Linked DNA regions of Homo sapiens. The protein of the gene in region 2 purifies or fractionates together with the protein of the main gene of each other region. This does not show direct contact. Each region holds a gene or a part of one and is shown on either strand. Other genes may lie near its edges. The genes, in order: MTHFD2, PARP3, RALGAPB and EHMT1.

Region 1 (4,053 bases), on a different chromosome or scaffold from region 2:
TTGTCTGGAGAAACAGCATTGCAGATCCTTCTCTCATCAATATGCTCTGAAAAAGAAATTGGCACAGTTGCCTTAAATCACCACCGCATAGTCAGCACTGCCTGACTCCAGCTTATCTGCTTCGCAAGGAAATCTATTCTTCTACAGCTTGCCTCTGAGATGTACTTCATCTGCATGGAAGGAACTCGCATAAGCAAAGCCAAACACCAATAGCAAAGCCAATATCGTCTATCACAGCTGCTTCCCTCCACTGTCCTTTGTATCAAGACCACAATACTAAATCAAGGCGTAATTGGTATTCTGAGTTGGTCTGTCCCATTTCTAATAAAATATTCACTCTTTTGAGTTTATTTTGCCTTTAAGCCAAATCCACATGAAGAACCAGGTGTATAAAGTAACAAGGCCTTTTTACCCCTCAGAAACCATTTTAGGTAGGGCATGGTAGTTCATGCCTGTAATCCCAGCACTTTGGGAAGCACAGAGTCCAAGACCAGCCCAGGCAACACAGACAGACTTTCATTTCTAGGAAAAATGTAAAAATTAGCTGGGCATGGTGGACATGCCTATAGTCCTAGCTATTTGGGAGGCTAAGGCAGGAGGATCCCTTGAACCCAGGAGCTTGAGCATGCAATGAGCTATGATTGTACCATTGCACTCTAGCCTGGGTGACAGAGTGAGACAAGGAAAGGAGAGGGAGGAGGAGGGGGATGGGGAGGGAGAGAGAGAGGGAGGGAGAGGGAAAGGAGCAGAAGCAGCAGCAATCATGTTAAATGGAGTCCAAAACTCACCTGGAAGAGGCAACTGAACAAGGAGGCCATCTACATTATCATCATTATTCAGTTTATTGATTAAATTCAACAATTCTTCCTCTGAAATTGAAGCTGGTTTCATAATTGTCTCACTGTTGATTCCTATTATAAGAAATTTTGAGGTTAAAAAAATTTTTGAGGCATTTAATGAGCACTGCTATGTTGCCTACCATACTTGGCTACCATACGGGTTTTGTATCATCACACTCATCCCTAAAAGCTGAAGTAGCTCAAGGAACCTAAAAAAGTAACTTCACAAATATATACACCAGAGAATACTAGCTTAACACATCCTGTATACCTCATTCTATGCAATCTTCATTAACCTTATTTTACAGACAGACTGAGGCTCAGAGAGGTTTAAAAATAAGCGAGCTAGGCCAGGCACAGTAGCTCACGCCTGTAATCCCAGCACTTTGGGAGGCCAAGGCCAGCGGATCACGAGGTCAGGAGATGGAGACCATCCTGGCTAACACGGTGAAAACCCGTCTCTACTAAAAATACAAAAAATTAGCCAGGCTTGGTGGAACGCGCCTGTAGTCCCAGCTACTTGGGAGGCTGAGGCAGGAGAATCGCTTGAACCTGGGAGGCGGGGGTTGCAGTGAGCTGAGATCGCACCACTGCATTCCAGCCTGCGCAACAGAGCGAGACTCCGTCTCTAAATAAATAAATAAATAAATAAGCGAGCTAATAATACAGCCAGTCTTTCTGGTTCCAAAATCCATGTTCTTTTTTTCTGCACCACACTACCTCCCAATGTCTTAAAATGCCATGGCTTGGCCAGGCACAGTGGCTCACGCCTGTAATCCCAGCACTTTGGGAGGCTGAGGCAGGCGCAGATCACCTGAGGCAGGTGGATCACCTAAGGTCGGGAGTTCGACACCAGCCTGACCAACATGGAGAAACCCCATCTCTACTAAAAATACAAAATTCGCCAGGCATGGTGGCCCATGCCTATAATCCCAGCTACTCGGTAGGCTGAGGCAGGAGAATTACTTGAACCCGGGAGGCGGAGGTTGCGGAGAGCCGAGATCACGCCGTTGCACTCCAGCCTGGGCAACAAGAGCGAAATGCCGTCTCAAAAAACAAAACAAAATGCCATGGCTTGCCATTATCTAGAGGTTTCTAAAGGCTTTCAATTAAAAGAGCAGGAGGCCTCACTCCTCAATAATAAAGAACAGAGAAAACCACAGGCTTACAGGCCAGTAACCCCACCCAGCCACGCGAGTGGTTTCACAGCCCTTCGAAGGAAAGGCCACCTGCTGCTCAGACCACAGGCCCACAGATGGGCAGGCAGAGGCATATCTGAGCCTGCCCACCCACCTCTTGTCCACAGAGACACAGTAATCTGTGGTACCGTGAGACCTAGAACACAAACCCCATCATCCAGACCTGAACTGCTTCTAAACTGCATGTTTGGCTTTAGAACCAATCGGTGAAGAACTTGAAAGCTATTTCCCAGAAGTCAGAGTCATTTCCTTCAAATCTACGACTGTGTTCCTGACCTCATCACTGAGGTCACCTAATACTGTATTGCTCAATCATGCCCCCTAAGCCTCTAAGGCTTTAAGCTGCAAACACTCAAACACCTCCACTGGAGACCCATTATTGCTCAAGGAAAGCAAATGTAAAATGCATTCAGGGTCACCTATCAAATATAAAGACTAAGAACAGAATGTAGCTTATATTCTTTCCAGAAGCCACAGAGAATACCAACCAGTATCTCCTGTCCTACTGTATAAACCCCGAAAGATATAGTCTGATTTCCTATGACAAAGTTTTGGGATACAGTTCAATCACATTAGCCTCCTCTGCTTGGGTTTCCTAATCAGAAAAAAGAAATCATAAATTAGAATGGACTTTGCCTCATATAAACCTCAACTGAACCGCAGTCGAGGTCTCAGAAGGACACATACCCACAACTGCAGCTGCCCTGGTTTTGTTGAGGACATAGGAGTGACTTGCAGGATTCTCGCCAACCAGGATCACACTCAGGTGTGGCCGTTTGTTGCCTGAGGCCACCCACTCTTCTACCTCCTGCCGCACTTCCTGCTTGATCTGCTGGGCCAGTTTCCTTCCAGAAATGACAACAGCTTCATTTCTGCAGAAGGCAACAGAGTCACAAAACCAAATAACTTGAATTTTTATAAAAACTAAAACTCTGCCAGGTGTAGTGGCTTATGCCTGTAATCCCAGCACTTCGGGAGGCCGGGGCAGGAGGATGGCTTGAGCCCAGGAGTTTGAGACTGGCCTGGGCAACATGGCAAAACCCTGTCTCTGCTAAATAAATAAATAAATGAATGAATATATCCAGCTACATATGGAGGGGGATAAAGTTGATAGAAATCATTATTATCATTAATTTGAAGCTCAGGGAGTTTAAGTGACTGACAGCGCTTGGTCAAGCTGAGTCTCACATCAGTCTGGGCTCTTAACTGCTACACCACCCTGCGCCCTGATCATTACTAAGTGTTTTACAGTTTTAATTTGCAATTGTTTGACCCCTCACCATGAGGTTAAATAGTTTTTCTTATCTGCTTATATGCCATTTGTAGTTCGTGTTTTGTCCCTGTTGTTAGCAGCCAGGCATGTATTTCAAATCATTTCCCAGTCAACTGACTTCATTTTTATGGTGGTTTAAATCGATAAATTATATTCTGTAGTTGAATAAACAAACAATATAGGCCGGGCACGATGGCTCACGTTTGTAATCCCAGCACTTTGGGAGGCCGAGGAGGGCAGATCACAAGGTAAGGAGTTCGAGACCAGCCTGGCCAACACATGAAACCCTGTCTCTACTAAAAATACAAAAATTAGCTGGGCGTAGTGGTGGGCTCCTGTAATCCCAGCTACTCAGGTGGCTGAGGCAGGAGAATCACTTGAAACCAGGAGGCAGAGGTTGCGGTGAGCTGAGATTGTGCCACTGCACTCCAGCCTCGGTGACAGAGCTAGACTCCGTCTCAAAAATAAACAAACAAACAAACAACATACTGGACAGGTCAAACATCAAAATGACCACCACTCCCCACAGTCCCTTCTGGGGAAGACTTTCCTGGTAAGAATAGGGGCAGGGCAGGGGACTGGAGGAAGCTCCTTCTCACAGTTGGCAATGTGCTCTTCCCAGGGACCCCACCATATCATCCAAAGCTGACAGACCAGGAGTGAGTATGTGACGCCAAGGGCAACAATCTCTAGGCTGGCCAGTGGTCCAGTTGGCGCAAAAGCTTAGCTCAACAGAGCAGTG
Region 2 (4,558 bases):
GCCCTCATGGACCTGGGTGAGGGGTGAGAGGCAGGCAGGGTGGCAGGGGCCTCAGGGTGGCAGGGCTGTGGGGCTGAGTCTCCCCACTCCCCTGTCCCCCTAGATGTGAAGAAGATGCCCCTGGGAAAGCTGAGCAAGCAACAGATTGCACGGGGTTTCGAGGCCTTGGAGGCGCTGGAGGAGGCCCTGAAAGGCCCCACGGATGGTGGCCAAAGCCTGGAGGAGCTGTCCTCACACTTTTACACCGTCATCCCGCACAACTTCGGCCACAGCCAGCCCCCGCCCATCAATTCCCCTGAGCTTCTGCAGGCCAAGAAGGACATGCTGCTGGTGAGGGCTGGCAGGGGTGCGGGCAGGCAGTGGGGCACTGAACAGACAGCCTAGGCGAGCGAGATGAAGGGCAGGTGGCCAAGAAGGCCCAGAAGGATGGACTGCCTGGGCAGGCTGACAGACGGGTGGGGAAGGCTGGGCAGACAGATAGGGTGGGGAGGGACAGGTGGGACACACAGGTGGGGTGGCTACAATACCAGTCATGTGAGAGAGGAGAGGGGAGGCCAGAGGTCAAGTGGGAAGACAAACTGCCAGGGCCCATCATCCTAGGTGCTGGCGGACATCGAGCTGGCCCAGGCCCTGCAGGCAGTCTCTGAGCAGGAGAAGACGGTGGAGGAGGTGCCACACCCCCTGGACCGAGACTACCAGCTTCTCAAGTGCCAGCTGCAGCTGCTAGACTCTGGAGCACCTGAGTACAAGGTGAGTTGGGCCCCACAGAGGGGCCAGGCTATCAGTGGGCACTGTCCCTCTGCCCACCTGCCCTCGAGGTGCCCAGAGGAATACTCGCCCTCAGCCTTCTCTTCCTGTGTCTCCAGGGCCTGAGGAGGGCTTGGGACTGGGGGAAGAAAAATGGGGGATTAGCTCCTGAGCCTCCCACCCTGGCAACCAGCTTCTGCTCTCCCCACAGGTGATACAGACCTACTTAGAACAGACTGGCAGCAACCACAGGTGCCCTACACTTCAACACATCTGGAAAGTAAACCAAGAAGGGGAGGTGAGGGAGGTTCCCCCACCTCTCCCCCATCACCACTGTGCCTTAGGAAGATGTCCTTGGCTAATCGGTCCCTTAGCAAATCGTTTAGCAGCTCTGGTCAGTTTCTGCCGGCCATGAGTGCGCGTGAGTAAGCAGAGGGACACTAGGCCTTGGTCACAAGCAGCAGGGCAAGGCGACTGAGTGCTCGGGTGGCATCACTCCCATTTCTCACTTCCTCTCCACTCAGGAAGACAGATTCCAGGCCCACTCCAAACTGGGTAATCGGAAGCTGCTGTGGCATGGCACCAACATGGCCGTGGTGGCCGCCATCCTCACTAGTGGGCTCCGCATCATGCCACATTCTGGTGGGCGTGTTGGCAAGGGCATCTACTTTGCCTCAGAGAACAGCAAGTCAGCTGGATATGGTGAGGTGCCCCTCTGGGCCAAGCCCTGGGAGGGTTGGCACTAAGATGGATTGGGCCCAGTCCTTGGCCACTGGAAATTCATGGTGAATCCAAGAGAGGAATCCTTTAATGGTTAATGACTACAGTGCTCAGTGGGCTGTCCTGGGCTTTGGTGGCGGGGGGTCTTAGAGAAAGTGTCTGATGGTCAGGGATGGCTTCCTGGGGGAGGCAATACAGATAGGATGGGTGCACCAACCAGACCTGGGAGGGGGTAAAAGGGGAGCCTTTGAGCCAGGTGTGGTGGCATACACCTGTAGTTCCATCTACTCTGGAGGCTGAGGCAGGAGGAACGCTTGAGCCCACAAGTTTAAGGCTGCCATGAGCTATGATCACACTCCAGCCTGTGTGACAGAGCCAGACTCCATCTGAAAAAATAAAAATAAAAAAGAGGAGACGTCAAGGCAAGGGGATAGGCAGAGAGGCTGGGAGGATGTGAGGATGTGGCAGGTCAGGGCTTCCAAACACTTCCTGATACTGGAGCTCAGAGCAATGCCTAGCCGGGGGCAGGGTGGGCTAGGGGCCCAGAACGATCGAGGAGGCTTTATCCAGAGAGTGATGGTTAGCCCAGCTGGACTTGTCTGTAGCAGGATCCCAGTGGCTACAGCTGTGGAGAGGGGGGCAGCAGCCAGAGGCTGCAGAGAGGCCATCCTCTTATCCAGGCTGGATGTGATGGGTGCCTGGCCCAAGGGCTGGGAAGTGCAGGGGAGGGAGCCCATGAGAGGGGCATGTAGGAGATGGGATGGGGAGCGTGTGGGAAAGGGTCAAGGCTGTCTCCAGTGACTTCTGAGTTTCTGGCCAGGAGTGTCCTCACCAAAATGACCCCCCCAGACCAGCTCCTCCACCCAGGCTGTCCCCATCATTGGAGGCCACCACCCAGCTGGCCAAGAGAGCAAGGACCAAGGATTCATCCCAGAACAGATGGGGCTGAAGTTCTAGGATGCCTGAGGTCACCAAGAGCAAGGGGTCCACCAGGAGGGCAGAGGGGCTTAGGAAAGAGTGGCGGGGTGGAGGGCTTAGGAGAGCCAGCGCGAGGAAGTCCCAGGTAGGGGCTGATGATGTCAGGAGCAAAGTCAGCAGAGCAGGCCAGGGAGAAAAGCCCCTGCCACGGGTTTGGTCACTGGGAGGCCATTGCTGACCTTGGTGAGGACAGCAGAGGGTACAGATGCCTGGCCATAGGGAGCACAGTGAGGTGGGAGGGAGCAGGCCGGGACAAGGAGGGAGTGACGGTTGGGGGAGAGTGAGCCTTTTCTTGCTGGAGCAGCAAAGCCAGAAGGAATAACATCGCAGCAGAGAGGGGCCCCACAGGTCAGCAGGAGGCAGGCTGAGCTGCCCACCGGTGCCTCCCTGTGTCTTGCAGTTATTGGCATGAAGTGTGGGGCCCACCATGTCGGCTACATGTTCCTGGGTGAGGTGGCCCTGGGCAGAGAGCACCATATCAACACGGACAACCCCAGCTTGAAGAGCCCACCTCCTGGCTTCGACAGTGTCATTGCCCGAGGCCACACCGAGCCTGGTGAGTCCTCAGAAGCTGTACAGCCCAAGGAGAGAGGTGGGGCCGAGATAGGGGCTGGGACATTTTCAGGGAGGGGGCTGTGAAGAGGGACAAAAAGAAGCTTCCCTGTCGTCACTCAGTTTGTCATTTGACAAACATCCACTGGTTCAACACATCATTCCTGGGCATCCCGGAGGGCTTCAAAAAGAGGAGTTGTTGACTGAGCATTGAAGGATTAGTACAAGTTTCCCAGAGAGAAGTCGGGGAGGACACCCCAGGCAGAAGCCCCAGCCCCTGCAGTGGTTTGGAGGTGGGCAAGGTGGAAATGAGCAGGCGTGCCCTGTGACAGACATGGAGAGCATAGGGGGCAGGACTTACTCGTAAGGCCTGGGACCAGTGACCCCTGGGCCACCCTGGCCCTTGCTGTGCCCTGCAGATCCGACCCAGGACACTGAGTTGGAGCTGGATGGCCAGCAAGTGGTGGTGCCCCAGGGCCAGCCTGTGCCCTGCCCAGAGTTCAGCAGCTCCACATTCTCCCAGAGCGAGTACCTCATCTACCAGGAGAGCCAGTGTCGCCTGCGCTACCTGCTGGAGGTCCACCTCTGAGTGCCCGCCCTGTCCCCCGGGGTCCTGCAAGGCTGGACTGTGATCTTCAATCATCCTGCCCATCTCTGGTACCCCTATATCACTCCTTTTTTTCAAGAATACAATACGTTGTTGTTAACTATAGTCACCATGCTGTACAAGATCCCTGAACTTATGCCTCCTAACTGAAATTTTGTATTCTTTGACACATCTGCCCAGTCCCTCTCCTCCCAGCCCATGGTAACCAGCATTTGACTCTTTACTTGTATAAGGGCAGCTTTTATAGGTTCCACATGTAAGTGAGATCATGCAGTGTTTGTCTTTCTGTGCCTGGCTTATTTCACTCAGCATAATGTGCACCGGGTTCACCCATGTTTTCATAAATGACAAGATTTCCTCCTTTTTTAAGGCTGAATGGTACTCTGTTATGTATATGCACCACATTTCCTCTATCCGTTCATCTATCAGTGGACACCAAGCTGCTTCCATATCTTGGCTATTGTGAACAGTGCTGCAGTGAACTGGGAAAGCAGACGTCTCTTGAACATACTGATTTCATTTCCCTTTGATGTATACCCAGTAGTGGGGTTTCTGGATCCATATCACCCCTTCTTGCCAGGCTCCCCTGTGTCCCAGACATCGATCCCCCTTCCCTCCAATCCCTGTTAGCCTTGATGTGTCTGTGGCCCCAGAGTCTTGCCTCCTAAAGTGATGGGTGTGGTACGGGCGTATTACAGGGACACAGATGCAGCAGCTTACTCAAGGGGCACAGCTGAGAGTGGCTTGGATCCCACATCCACCCAGGCCGTCCATCCTGGCCTGGACTGCATGTTGGAGCCATGTGGTCACCAAGGTAGGCTAAACTGCAGGCATGTGCAAGCAGCTTTACTAAACATGGTATTCTCTTGCCCCAGCCTCTGCCTGTCTGTGCCACAACTGTGCTGGGCCTGGGCCTCCAGCCACACTCCAGGGAGCGAGCGCTCACATGGGTTG
Region 3 (4,053 bases), on a different chromosome or scaffold from region 2:
CAGATAGGTACCATTATTCCCATTTTATAATGAAGGAACTGTAGCACAGAAAGAAAATATCTTAAAATGAAGATTTTATCTTGTGGTTCTAATATCATCTGGCCCTTCATATGCATCTCAATGGGAAGACCAGTATTCTACAGCACCACATTTGTCATCTCAACTCTCAGCTTGAATGGCCTCTCCTCTTTCACTCTAAGGTTTGAACCTAAAGCTCTCTAACAATGGAGAGCAACATTGCTCAACAGATTATTTTTCTTCCATTTCCTCTCCTCCTAAAACGAAGACTGTCTCAGAACTTCAGGGACCAGGAGAACTTGGCATTAAGTTCAGGCCTCTAATGGTTTGCAGAAAATAGGAGAAACACCAGGAGATCAATAATGAGAAAATATGGCTTTTAAACACCAGGAGATCAATAATGAGAAAATATGGCTTTGGTTTTCTAAAATGGGATAGAGACGGTTGTCACAAAGCATATGGAATATGAGCTTGCTGTGTTCCATGCAAGATTCTAAGATATCAGATAGGTTGCTGGTAAGGGAGTAGGTCACTAAGATCAAATTATACCAGCCTAACTGCATTTTCTGTTCCGGATATTGACCAGACTGGAAAGGCAGATTAAATGTCTCTGAAATAAAGACATACAGGTATGCATCTGGGGTAATGGGCTTTTTAATCTTGGAGGGGAGAGTCTGGACAGCATGCCATGGCATTCACCACAAGGAGTAAATCTGACCTGTCAAGAAGCATGGCTGTGGTCAATTAAAATTCAGAAGAGTGGAAGGGGACACATTGATGCACAAGGTAAACTGAAGATTTTGCTTTGGGAATTAACTGTTATCTTTTCCATTCTCCATAGCATTATGCAGTTGCTCGGCGCATTTCCTTCACCTAGTGGTCCTGCCTCTCCTTGTAGTCTTGTGAATGAGACCACTTTGATTAAATACTCCAGGCTGCCAACCATAAACAAGCATAGTTTCCGGTACTTTGTCTTGGATAACAGTGTCATCCTGGCAATGCTGGAACAACCTCTTGGAAATGAGCAGAGTAAGTTTATAGTACTTTGAGCCTTCTCTACTGCTTAATCAGTGTTACCAGTACCATGAAGCTGTTTCCAGGATCAGGGAAGGACAGCCTACAGATTCTAAGTAGGTCAGAAAGATTTCTAGCTGTGGGACAATAGCACCTGAAAAATAGGGGGGCAAAAAAATAGAATATACATATTACATAGAGTCTTTTAAAGGCTCTTGATGTGCATCTGAACTAGCTCTGTAGTTTTATAAAAGGTGGTGTTTTAGTGGGTTCCATTGTGTTGTTTATCTTTGTCACTTTTTCTTCCCCCTTGAACTTCGGATCCTGCCCCTCTGCTCCCCTCCCTCTCACTCCTCATGTTCTGTATCAATTGTTGGTGCTACCTACACAGGCTAGAAACTTGAGGAGTTATCTTTACCTGCCCCTTCCTGTTACTCACTTATATAATTAGTTTCTAAGTTTCCATCTTCCCAGGGACCCTTGAATTTTTCCTTTCCTCTGTATTTTCCCAATACATCCAAGTGCAGGTCCTTATTATTTCTCACCTAGATTATTACAGCTGTTTCCTACCTACTCTGATTCCCTCAACCCCTAAACCCCTTGCCAGTTCTAACATGTGTTTTCCCTACTTTCATCCTACTTGCTGCCACCATAGTATTCATCTTCAACCACAAATGACCATGCCAGTGCCCTACTGAAAATCCTTCAGTGATTTTCCATTAACACAACATGCACTGTTTTCCTCCTTTCCCTCCCCCTCAGTTATAAGCCATCTCACAATATGTGATTATCACTGCGACCCAAACTATCCACAAGTACATTTTTTTTTTCTGATGGTAATTGGCATCAGCCAGTATGTAAAAGAAGCATGTTCTCAGACCCTTATTGCTGGGAAGGGGAAGGAAAGTGAAGGTTACAGAATCTGTGGGTATAAAGTGACCCATGGAGTCACCTGGTATACAATTCCCTTAGTTATGAGTGAAAAAACTCAGGCTCACAGAGGGTATATGACTTGCCCAGGGTTACTTGGGACTAGAGCCCAGATTTTCTAAACCCTGTATTGTCCCTTTCTATTATTATTGTCGCACAGTGATAGGATTTGCTCAGTGATTAAAGATTTGCCTTCTTGCCTTTGTAAAGGTGAAGAGTTCTGTGCCAGTTTTGTTGATTATATGAGTAAGAGCTCATAAATCCATGAAGTGAAAGTGAGACATTTCCCTGCAGTTTGAGATGAAAAGAATACCATCATAAACTTCTGTTGTGTTGTGGTGAGATGCGGTGACATTAATGTGAAATGGAATGGTGCCTTTTATTATTGTCTAACTTCAGAACTGCTACTCCCAAGTCTTTTCTACAGGCATCTCATCCTTCTCTACCCTAGACATGGAGCTTGCTTGGCTTTCTTTCCTAGCCTGTGCCTGTTCATGATTCCTCCAGCCTCCTACTCCAAGCCATCTGCTGAGGAGTCTGCAAAATCCCAGTGTCCCCTTCAGGCTTCCTGGCCTTTTTCCAGCTTTTTAAAGACTCTCCTACTTTCATTCCAAATAATTTCATTGCATAGGAAGTGTACCAAAAATACAAGCAATTGGAATTGTATAGATTTACAAGGACATTTTAATAGTTTATTGTAATAATAAGAAATTATAGAGAAGTTTGAAGGCGTTTGACTCCCATATCTGAGACGGAAGAATAAAAAAAAGGATCTGGGTCACTCGGGAAGTCCATCCTGAGTGTTTTTTTTAACACCCCCATCATGTCCCTGAACTTCTGCTGAGATGGAACAGTGCCTGCCTGTGGTGGGCAGTGGTACACAAAGGCATGGGCAGATATAACACTAACACTGCAAACACCCAGTCTGTCTTTCTACACTTAAGTTGTTCCCAACATTGGGAGGTTAAGAGTATTTACTAGGACAGTGTTTCCCACAAATGTGTACATGTACCATTGGAGGTATGTGAGATGATCTTAGTTGATACATTAGTGAACATTATTTTATGTATTTTTAAGCATGTGCTTTAAAATTATATAATTAGTACATGCCAAAATTCATGATTTTCCATTTAGAGATGCACAAGAGTGGTTGATACAAAGTAATAGTACTTACAGTACACGGGTATGGGTACGGCAGAAACCACAGAAGTGGTACACAAAAGATCAAAGCTTAGGAAACACTGTTGGGCCTTTGATTATGAGAAGCTCTGCAGTTGATAACAAGTTTATTTTAAATGGTTGTTGTCTGAAATTAAAACTTTTATATACATATTTTATTCTAGATGATTTTTTCCCCTCTGTCACTGTGCTGGTCCGGGGAATGTCTGGAAGACTTGCTTGGGCACAACAGCTTTGTCTTTTACCCAGAGGAGCAAAAGCAAATCAGAAGGTATTCATCAGAAGTTACAGGGAAGTGTGTGTGTGTTTTGTAATTTAAAGGTTAGGTAACATTCCAACAGAAGACACAGATCAAATAAATATTTTTGATCCCTAGCCAGATTCTCAGTCAGTGGGTTCATATCAGAATCATCTAGGAACCTAGAATTCCAGATGTACTCAATTACTCTTTAAAGACATGTTCAAGGCAGGTGTCTTTTCAAAAAGCTTTCCAGGTGATTCTGACATCTACTTAGGAGTAATTGCTGTTGTGGACAATGGCCCCAGTTTTTTCCATGTAATTTTACAAATGTAATAAAAGTCAGATATATACCATACGTGAAAAAAATTTGGTGGGACTTTTGATTTGTCCGCAACAGGACTTAGTTTGAAATTGTTTTATATGATTTGTTCTTATATAATAATTGGTAATATATTGTATAAATTTTATTTTTTTTATAAAGAGTCAGGGTCTTGTTCTGTTGCCCAGACTGGAGTGCAGTGGTGTAATCATAGCTCACTGCAGCCTCAAGCTCCTGGGCTCCAGTGATCCTCTTGCCTCATCCTCCTGAGTAGCTGAGACTGTAGGCACATGCCATGGCACCCAGCTCATTTTTAAAATTTTTTGTAGAGATAGGGTCTTGCTTTGTTGCC
Region 4 (2,864 bases), on a different chromosome or scaffold from region 2:
ATTTGTTTGACTTTACCTGTCATTAGGCAAATCTCTGAGATTCTGTTCATCCACCCAGTGATGGCTTCAGCAGCCAGTGAATTTCGATGTAGAATTTCCGTTGGATTCTTTTTCTGTTTCTCCGCTGAGACTTCTCATTTCTCTGATATTTTCATGCCTTGAAATCTTTCTTTGTTCTTCATTGAGGACAGCCTTAGGAGCTGCCTTGAAAATACGTGTCTGTTGGCCCAGTGTCTGGTTCATCTCAAGGCTGGACTCAGTTGAGTGTTCTTTCGGACGTGTTCGTTTCCTCAGTGTTTCAAGCGTCAGGTCCCTTGAGTTGTTCCTGTTAACATGTGGGGAGGACTCTGGTTTCTCTTCTGCGTGGGCCTTGTTTCCCTAGTGCGATTGGCTGGGCCCCTTCTGCAGGCCCGGCCTCTCTAGTGGTCCCTGTGCTTTCGCCTCAGTCCTAGGATTGGCTGGGCTCCCTCCACAGGCTCCGCCTCCTACGTGGCTGCTGCACTTCGCCCCAGTCCTAGGATTGGCTGGGCTCCCTCCACAGGCTCCGCCTCCTACGTGGCCGCTGCACTTCGCCCCAGTCCTAGGATTGGCTGGGCTCCCTCCACAGGCTCCGCCTCCTACGTGGCCGCTGCACTTCGCCCCAGTCCTAGGATTGGCTGGGCTCCCTCCGCAGAACCCCCCAACCCCACGTGGCCCCTGTGCCTTCCCTCCAGTCCTAGGATTGGCCAGGCTCCCTCCACAGGCCCCACCTCCTACATGGCCTGTGTGCCTTCATTCCAGTCCTAGGATTGGCTGGGCTCCCTCCTCAGGCCCCGCTTCCCACGTGGCCTCTGCACCTCGCTCCCGTCCTAGAATTGGCTGGGCTCCCTCCACAGGCCCCGCCTTCCACGTGGCCTCTGCACCTCGCTCCCGTCCTAGAATTGGCTGGGCTCCCTCCACAGGCCCCGCCTCCCACGTGGCCACTGCACTTTGCTCCCATCCTAGGATTGGCTGGTCTCCCTCAGGCCCCGCCTCCCACGCGGCCTCTGCACCTCGCTCCAGTCCTAGGATTGGCTGGGCTCCCTCCGCAGGCCCTCCCCCCACCCACCCATGTGGCCCCTGTGCCTTCTCTCCAGTCCTAGGATTGGCTGGGCTCTCTCCGCAGGCCCCGCCTCCCACGTTGCCTATCTGCCTTACTCCAGCCGTCCTTCTCTGGACTGTTGTCTTTATCTGGTTCTGGTCGGGCAGAGATTTGTGTCACAGACTTTGACACCCCACCCATCTTAGAAGCTCGGAGCAGCGCTGTGTGCTCTGCCAGACGAGCTGCCCCTGGTGAAAGCTGGGCCTGGCCCCTCCAGTCGGAAGCCCCTCACTCTCCATTTTGCTGCTTATCAAGACCTTCGTGTGTGCGCCGTTGCTAGTTCCGGAATTGCATTCTGCACGAGGAGGGGTCGCCTATAGATTCTTAGTCCATCAGACCCCGAAGCAGAGGCCAAAGTCCACGCCAGGTGAGCCACTCTGAACTCTGTTTCTTTGGGGTAAACCAGGAGGCAGCTTCCCGCGCCTTTGGCTTTGGGGGCTGTGGCTGGTCCTGTCCTGCGGCCGTGCTCGCCTGGTTTACTGTCTTGTCACTGCCCGCGCCGTGAAGGTTGACGGAGAGCTGCTCTCGTCCACGCCTTTACCCGCTTGTTGGTTTGGGTTTTAACCTCTTGACCTCTGAGCGTCCCTGGCTCTCTGGTTAATGTTCATGCTGGGGCAGGTTGTGGACCAGGTGTCTCTGCCGGCAGGCCCCGCCCTCTCGGAACTCGGTCCTGGAAAGCCCCAGGTGCCTCCTTCCCCGTCTGCCTGGCTGTCGTCTGTGGTGTTGCCTCTTCCCGTCGCTGGGTAACAAACCACGCCACCCACCCGCAGCTCGCCATGGCGGCCACCCACTCGGCCCAGTGTGCGCAGCAGGGGTTGGGCGTGCCGGGCCTCGGGCTGCACAGGCAGGGTGCTGCTGAGCCCAGGTCCCTGTGGTTGCGTGGGCAGCGTCTAGGTTCCTTGCTAGCTGCCGGCCGGGACCACCTACCTTACTCCCACGCAGCTCCTCCATCCAGGCCCCAGCAGCTCCAAGCCCTGGGTCTCCAGAGAGAATTGCTTTTAAAGGGGTTGCGTGGTTAGGTCAGGCCCACCCACCTCGTCCCCCTCTCTATGGTCAATTCAGAATCCATCATCACAGGCCAGTGCCAGGGGCCAGGGCCCAGGGCCATGTGGCCACCCGGAATCCTGGGCTCCTCTCCAAGGCACCAGGGTGAGGAGGACGCCTCAGTCTCTTCGGCCTCGTGTTCCACAGTCACATCAGCACCCGGAAGGGCTGCAGCAGAAGTCGTTTTCTGTGGGCAGCCTCCGCCTGACGGTCCTCCCTGGTGCCATTCGCCACTGAGTCTTCCCAGACCCTCTGGGGACTGCTCCGCCTCCTCGTCACCAAGACAGTGTGTCCCGGATGCCAGCTCCATCCCTCCCGACCCCCTCAGCCCCTGCCACTGCCTCACGGGGCTCTTGCAGCCCCGGCCTCCTTTCTCCTATTGGTGCCAGACAGCCCCATGGGTCCTCGGGTGGGATGGCGCTGTCCACATTCCACCGCGCTGGAAGCCCCATGGGGACGCCGTCAAGGGAACGGCCCGCACCACCCCCACCCCACCACAGACGGAGGCCCAGCGAGGACGGCAGGGTGCGGGGTGGGTGGCCACACAGCGAGGAGAAGGCTGGCGGAGGCTCCGCACCGCCGCCACAGGTCACTGGAGAAGGCCCCTCCTGCATGGCGGGCCTGCGCCCAACTGCAGGCTCCGGGACTGCCATGCATGGCCGTACCCGGCGAGGCCGGCGTGTCGGGGCCTTGCTAACTG

The links.
Region 1: the proteins of PARP3 (region 2) and MTHFD2 purify together in Homo sapiens (affinity purification with mass spectrometry; one large-scale study listed by BioGRID and IntAct). This does not show direct contact.
Region 3: the proteins of PARP3 (region 2) and RALGAPB purify together in Homo sapiens (affinity purification with mass spectrometry; one large-scale study listed by BioGRID and IntAct). This does not show direct contact.
Region 4: the proteins of PARP3 (region 2) and EHMT1 purify together in Homo sapiens (affinity purification with western blotting, with the first as the bait; one study listed by BioGRID). This does not show direct contact.

The regions. Positions count from the first base shown.
Region 1 is NC_000002.12:74,204,562-74,208,614, reverse strand, and holds part of MTHFD2 (bifunctional methylenetetrahydrofolate dehydrogenase/cyclohydrolase, mitochondrial isoform A precursor), read right to left. Parts: intron 2,911-4,053; coding exon 2,726-2,910; intron 912-2,725; coding exon 789-911; intron 47-788; coding exon 1-46. UniProt on the Homo sapiens protein: Although its dehydrogenase activity is NAD-specific, it can also utilize NADP at a reduced efficiency.
Region 2 is NC_000003.12:51,944,895-51,949,452, forward strand, and holds the end of PARP3 (protein mono-ADP-ribosyltransferase PARP3), read left to right. Parts: coding exon 1-16; intron 17-103; coding exon 104-330; intron 331-600; coding exon 601-750; intron 751-958; coding exon 959-1,045; intron 1,046-1,271; coding exon 1,272-1,449; intron 1,450-2,845; coding exon 2,846-3,001; intron 3,002-3,416; coding exon 3,417-3,586; 3' UTR 3,587-3,973; downstream 3,974-4,558. UniProt on the Homo sapiens protein: Mono-ADP-ribosyltransferase that mediates mono-ADP-ribosylation of target proteins and plays a key role in the response to DNA damage. Mediates mono-ADP-ribosylation of glutamate, aspartate or lysine residues on target proteins.
Region 3 is NC_000020.11:38,545,384-38,549,436, forward strand, and holds part of RALGAPB (ral GTPase-activating protein subunit beta), read left to right. Parts: intron 1-859; coding exon 860-1,047; intron 1,048-3,305; coding exon 3,306-3,412; intron 3,413-4,053. UniProt on the Homo sapiens protein: Non-catalytic subunit of the heterodimeric RalGAP1 and RalGAP2 complexes which act as GTPase activators for the Ras-like small GTPases RALA and RALB.
Region 4 is NC_000009.12:137,831,457-137,834,320, forward strand, and holds part of EHMT1 (histone-lysine N-methyltransferase EHMT1), read left to right. Parts: intron 1-2,864. UniProt on the Homo sapiens protein: Histone methyltransferase that specifically mono- and dimethylates 'Lys-9' of histone H3 (H3K9me1 and H3K9me2, respectively) in euchromatin.